2 linked regions of the Homo sapiens genome follow. The protein of the gene in region 2 purifies or fractionates together with the protein of the main gene of each other region. This does not show direct contact. Each region holds a gene or a part of one and is shown on either strand. Other genes may lie near its edges.

Region 1 (3,157 bases), on a different chromosome or scaffold from region 2:
AAGCTTCATTTTTCGGGTAATATCACCACCATACTGAAAAATATTTTAAAACATTGGAAGTCTAAGTCACTCTAAAGAGAAACAATCATATGATTACAGCGGCATCAGTACAACCTTAACAACCATACCAAATTATTATCCATAAGGCAGACATCTCTCTAATCTTCCTAGCAGATCTAATTTTACTGTCTTCTCAAAGAATGATACAGGATTTAATCTGGATGGAGGTGAAGATTCCCAAGGAAACCTAGTATAATAATATGCATGTCAAGGAAGAATTATCAATCTCCTTACTGATTCTAGGCTTGGAATTTTGACTAGAAAGCCACAGTCTAATATAGGTAACTCTTAATCACATAGGAATAAATGTGCCTTTGGAGAAAGAATTGATCATTCAACTCTCACGATATTTAAGAATAATTTTTCTTTTTTTGAGATAGAGTTTCCCTCTCACCCAGGCTGGAGTACAATGGCAGGATCTCTGCTCACTGTAACCTCCGCCTCCTGAGCTCAAGCAATTCTCATGCTGCACCCTCCCGAGTAACTGAGATCACAGGCATGCACCACCACGCCTGGCTAATTTTTGTATTTTCAGTAAAGCTGCGGTTTCACCATGTTGGCCAGGCTGGTCTCGGAACTCCTAGCCTCAAGTGATCTGCCCATCTTGGCCTCCCAAGGTGCTGGGATTACAGTTGTGAGCCACCGAGCTGGTGCAAGAATAATTTTTTAACAGCTGAATAACAGCAAACTGGCAAAACAATGTCAGGAGAGGTAGACTTCAACTGTAAGATAAAGCCATTGTTTTCAAAATCTTTCATTATATGTTAGATCAAGAAAACATGTTACCCAGATCATAGAAATAACTGTTGTAAAAATCTTCCTTAGTATTACATATAAGAACAATTTTAATAAATATTTTTGTAAATTTTTATAAATAAGATGAAAAAATACTTAAAAGATATGGGCAAAATGAACAGGTTGCCATGGTCAAGCTGAAATTTACCTATTCAAAAAGGGAACTTGGAAACAAAGAATGTATAAAAACCAACAATGGAAATCAATAAGTTTATGCCCCCTTTGATTTAAAGCCCATAAAAGTTATAAAGTAGAATAAATACAACTAGATACATACACATTTTGCCAAAACGTTTTTCCTATAGGCTTTCACACTGTAAAAGAGAAAAATTCGTTTAAGTACATAATTCCATTATACTGTTTAAAAGCACTTCCTTACCAAAAACAATCTCCCCTTTACTAGAAAATTTTAATGATAGTATCATTACCTATGTAAAATTGCCATAAGCATATTAATTAGATACTTCAAATGCTCTTGTATTTATTTTCATGTACTTGGTATAAAAGAACAAATAAATTCAACATGTTTATCAACACACATTAAGAAAAAATGGTCAAGGCTTGTGGTAGGCTTGATTAGGCCAAATTCAAGCATGATGTGACCTTGATTACAAGAAATACATTAGGTTATTTTTTACTCAATCTAAAAATTACCAATCTAAAAATTAACACTACTACTTCAGAAAAACAAAATATGTTTATTATCTTATTACTGCCTCTACTGAATGTGGATGGAGTGGCTAGGAAGCTTGATATATCCACCCCAGCAGTTATAAACTAATCTATTTCTACAATGTTTGAGAAATTTCTAGATCACTCTAATTTTGAAAATAGCTCCATCTTTATGTATTCCTTAAGACAGAAAAACCAATTTTTTAAGGTATTATCTCAACACACTTATTTTAGAATGAGCAATTGCTAACTGTCTTAAATTGCACTTTCCAGGATGTTCCCTAGTTATCATTTCTACTCTGCCTGATCTCAGTATTTACAAAACACAGAATAACTAACCAAAGCAAAACAGTGTTAGGAAATGAAATGTATTTCAAACAGTGGGCCTAAAATTAACCTCAAGTCTATATTAACATGATGGTTGTATTTCCTCATTAGGTTTGGGTTAAGGTCGAATTTAATAGCAATTTCCAGCTTTTCATAACTGAGGAGATACTTCCTATTTCCTAGAAGTCTTAGGATCATTAAGGAAAGGAAATGGGAAGTGCTACAAGACACATCCTGCACCTGCTGTCACAAGCAGAGCAGCTTATTCAGTGTTCTTCATTGTTATTTTTGGGTTTTTGTTAAAAAACTGGGTCTTACTATGTTTCCCAGACTAGTCTCACAGCAATACTCCTGCCCCAGCCTCCCAAGTAGTTGGGATCACAGAATGTGAGCCACCACACCCAGCCAGTGTTCTGATTTATGTATTACATTTCATGAAAGACTAGTGTCCGACACAAATTAGCCTGTCTTCCATATCTACTATAATTCATGTGAGGTCCCTAATCTAGAATGCAAATCCTAACATGGTATTGGCATTCCTTGATTTATAACCTCCCTAGCTCTGCGGAAGTGGGGAAGCAATATTAAATGCTTTGGGTTAAAAAAAAATTGTAATTTTGTCATTTGGAAGACAAAACCTTTTAGTTTCAGTTTCTATTAATCTATAATCTACCTAAAGGGATAAAACCATAAAAGAAATTCCTTACCCAGGAAATTCAGTATAGACATTGATATGAGTGGAAATTAAAACAGTTCCTCAAACTCGTATACGTTATACTAACTGCAGATCACATCACCCAGTGCTGTTATATAAGTAATTCAAAGTAACAGTCATTACTTAAATCAGAAAACTGGAGAGCACCATCATACTGTTTCTACAAGTAAGAAAGCTTAGGCCAATGTTAAATTAAAATGTTCAATATTCTTTCACTTTTTAGGTATATCATTTCTGAAACTGGCTCAAGACCAAAAATGAATTTCAACTCACGTTTCTCTTGCAATGATTTTACTTCCAATAGCAGCTTGAATTGCTATCTCAAACAGTTGCCTAGGAAGAGAATCCTTCAGCCGTTCACATATGGCTTTGCCAATTGAATGAGCTTTGTCTCTGAGACAGAAAAATACAACTGTTTATATATCCTAAATAAGAATATTTCAAGTATTTTTCTAGGCCAGTTGCATAATCAGTGTAAAGGTGATCTCTTAAGGAGGTTCAAATGGAACTTACTTATAAATCTCTCTTACTCTCTGAATCATGAACAACTTCTCTGATTTAAAAAAGTAATGTATGATTACAGAATAT
Region 2 (3,653 bases):
TGAGACTCCATCTCATAAAAAACAAAAGGAAAATGCATCTATTGCTGGCAACACAGCAGAGGGTCCTGACTTTATAATTATGCAAAAGTGATATACATTCAGTAGAAACTAACCCCGCACAAAGTCGATCCTTACAGAGTTACATCCTGATAAAACCATTGCAAAGTTGAAAAATCCTGTGTAGAATCATCTTTAAGTCAGGGACATCTGTCTGTGACTTAAATATGATATGCTTTAGGTCTATGATAGTCTTGTGACTGTCGAGTTGAACCCCTAGTGAGCCCTACGCCAGAGGGAAGAGACAATCCACTAGGAAGATATGCACAACATGTGATCAACAAAAAACCAGTACCCAGAATATATAAAAAACCCTGGAATCAATGAGAAAAGGCTTGCAACCAACAGTTCAAAGCACAGACACAGTTCAAAAATGCCCAGCTATGCCTTCAGCCAGACACAATTTCCATTGCTGTCCCACCTATTTGTAGGAAGCCCTCAAAATGGCATTCAGGCGTGACACCTGCACGGCGTTCCTGACCCCGCACCCTCTAGCTGTGTGTGTCCCTGCCCATTTACTTGTTTCCGCCCCATCCGGGCTGTGCTTCAAGCCATAGTGGCTCTCGATGCTCCGGAGATGCTCAGCACAGAGTGTGATTCGATGGACCCAAAAGCCAAACCCCAGAGCCTGATAGCCTCAGAACAGCAGGGAGAGGCTGTGGCCGTGACAAAGCAGATTCCATGACTCTGCCCTGCTCCTGCTGATACAGGAGGTTGAAAGAAATTATTTAGGCAGATAATAAGGGCAACAGAGTCCTTGGCGAAATTTCCCTTTTAATAAAAAGCAGCCCCCAAATAATTTCTTTTCTAACAAAGAGCAGCCTGAAAAATCGAGCTGCAGACATAGATAAGCAAACTGGAAGCTTGCAGGGGTAAATGCTGGCGGCTGTGCCAACAGAAAAGGGCTACCTGGGAGCCAGATATGTTCAACGTGGGGGCCCCATCTTCCCTTCTTTGTTGCCATGTGTACAGTAAAGAACCAGGCAACATGGCGATGGCCACCTGTCTGCATAATAAAAGGTTAGGGTGGGGCACCAGCTTTTATACATGCTATGTAAATGGCACACCTGGTCCAACTAATCTTTTGCGTCCTCTGTAAATCAGACACCACCTCCCCAAGCTCATCTACAAAACCTCTGCATTACACTATGGAAGTGGCAACCCACTTCTCTGGCACCTCTCTCTGCAAGGAGAGAGCTCTTCTCTTTTTTTTTTTTTCACCACCACACCGGGCGAGAGCTCTTCTTTCTTTCGCCTATTAAACTTCAGCTCTTAACCTCTTTTTTTTTTTTTTGAGACCAAGTCTCCATCTATCGCCCAGGCTGGAGTGCAGTGGCGCGATCTTGGCTCACAACAAATCTCAGGTATTCACCCCAGACAATGACACCACTTCACTGCCTGCCCAGTCCCTGAGCAAGCGACAACCTGTTTGGAGTACCCAGCAACGTGCAGGTGCTGGGGACCCAGATGAGCACAGCAGACAGCCTCTGCCTCCAGAAGCCTGATACAGGGAAGGCCAGGGCTGCCCATGAGCACATGATCCAAGACTGTAGGACACGGCATAAAGGAACAGAGTGGGAAGGGGGAGGGGAGACTTTCATCCCAGGTCAGAGCGGCAGCCAGCTGGGCATGTCTGAGGGCCACTTAAGCAGAGACCTCCAGGAAAAGTGGGTGCCACCTGAGGCAGCGGGAACACCAATCCCGAAGCAGGCAAGAGGTTGGTGGCCTCTGCGAACTGACAGAAGGCCACTGGGACAGACAGAGAAAGCAAACGCAAGGCTGAGACATGAGATGAGCCACGCAGACAGGGACTCGCAGGCTGTGGTCTACAGACTTGGGTACTGCTCCTAAGGGAAGCTGCTGGACAGTTTCAAGCATGGCAACACAATCCCAAGGGCCAGAACCGGGGTTGGGTGGTGGGGGGAGGGGGTAGCAATGGTGAAGGAGCTGATGAGCTTTTGAGCTTGGGGCACACACCCGGTCAAAGGTGGGAGGGTACTGGGCTGCAAACTCCAGCTGGCGGATGACCACTTCGTTCACCGGGACCCTGTTCTGCTTCATGTCCTTCAAGATGCTGATGAGATAGGTGTAGTTCAGCTTCCTGATGGCCGCGTTGATGAGGGCACTGTAGATGTGAGTGTTGGGGGTCACCTGGGACTTCTAGAACACAGGGACATCGTAGAATCAAGATGATGGCAGCCATTGGGACCCAGCAGCTCCCACCCTCTGTCAATCAAGCTGGCTCCCGGGACCAGCGGCCAGGGCCAGCAAGGCAAACTTGGCAGCAACAATGTGCTGAATATCCCTCTCCAGCAGGAAAGCCAAGCCCAGCCCCTCTGCTCAGCCCTAAAGAAGCTGCGGAAAAGGACGCTCGTGCTGCTCTCAGACACCGACTGACTCAGGCAGAAAATGATGTGGGAGACACCACCTCCTTGCTCCCTGGGGTGGGCTTCCTGTGACGCACGGTCACCAGGTGGTGGTTGGCCTAGAAAAGTGCAAGCCTTGGCTGGGTGAGCCCGGTAGGGTCCAGGAAAACAGCCAGAGGATGATGGACCTGGGGACACCGACAACCCAGGACGCAGCCTCTGCTGTGGTCGGATGAAATCCACGCAGCACTTCCAATGGGGGTTAGGTGGGAGGCACAGACCTCGGGGGCTTTGAAAACTGCCCACGGCCCCTCAGGAATTCTGAGAATCCCTGCCATACCTCTAGAGTGTTGGGGCCGAGGCCTGTGCCCAGCCCTGTGTCAACCCACGGCCACCTTCTTCCGGATGGGAACATCCGTGTGTCTCTACGCCCAGCCCTGAAGCACTCACTGGGGTCTGCTTCCCCCAAAATGGGACCAAAGACCAGAAGGTCATTGACCCCACTCTCTTTGCCCCATGCACAGTTCATCCTCTCCAGGTGGGGGGTCTGCAGACCCCTCAAACTTTCCTCCTGAGCTGCAGAGTGCTCCTGAGCACCATGGGTGTCCTGCCCAGGCCCGAGTCCACTCACCTTCATGTCTGTGAGAAGCTGTAGACCGTCCTTCGGCCTGTGGCACCCGATGGCCAGGTTGCAGAATGTCTGCAGGTTGGGGACGAGGCCCCTCTTTGCCAGGACCGGCAACAGCGCCTTGGCCCCCTCCAGGTCTCCCAGCTTGCTCTTCTTTCTCACCAGCGTGTTAAAGAATGTCAGGTCGGCCTCTACCTGGTGCTCATCCAGGAGGGCCAGCAGCAAGGACTCTGCAGGACTCCCGGACTCCACCACCTCGGCCAGTAGCGTGAGGGTCCTGATGTCGGGCTGCTGCCTGTGCTCTGCCATCTTGCTCAGGAAGCCCTCCAGGCCCCCTATCAAGGCCAGCCGGTCAGCTGGGGTGGTCACCGTTCCAAAGGAGACCACTGTAGGGGGAACGGCCCCGGGGGTCAGGAGGTTGACTTCCAGCTCCACGGGAGGTGGCTTCAGGGCCACTGCGGTGAGGGCTGCTGTGTGGCTGGGCTCTGCCTTAGTATCCACCTCTGGTTGGGCCTTGCCGGGCACTCTGGCTTCCGGAGGCTCTGGAGGCCCAAGTGCCTGAGAAGGTTCCAGAAACAGCTGCCTCTCCAGGGCCTCCACAT

The links. Proteins that work in one complex are often made in the same cells at the same time.
Region 1: the proteins of PTCD1 (region 2) and GUF1 purify together in Homo sapiens (affinity purification with mass spectrometry; one large-scale study listed by BioGRID and IntAct). This does not show direct contact.

Annotation. Positions count from the first base shown.
Region 1 is NC_000004.12:44,695,420-44,698,576, reverse strand, and holds part of GUF1 (translation factor GUF1, mitochondrial), read right to left. Parts: intron 2,963-3,157; coding exon 2,843-2,962; intron 1,170-2,842; coding exon 1,133-1,169; intron 34-1,132; coding exon 1-33. UniProt on the Homo sapiens protein: Promotes mitochondrial protein synthesis. May act as a fidelity factor of the translation reaction, by catalyzing a one-codon backward translocation of tRNAs on improperly translocated ribosomes. Binds to mitochondrial ribosomes in a GTP-dependent manner.
Region 2 is NC_000007.14:99,421,741-99,425,393, forward strand, and holds part of PTCD1 (pentatricopeptide repeat-containing protein 1, mitochondrial), read right to left. Parts: coding exon 3,055-3,653; intron 2,218-3,054; coding exon 2,035-2,217; intron 1-2,034. Other genes in the region: ATP5MF-PTCD1 (ATP5J2-PTCD1 fusion protein), read right to left, coding at 2,035-2,217, 3,055-3,653. UniProt on the Homo sapiens protein: Mitochondrial protein implicated in negative regulation of leucine tRNA levels, as well as negative regulation of mitochondria-encoded proteins and COX activity. Also affects the 3'-processing of mitochondrial tRNAs.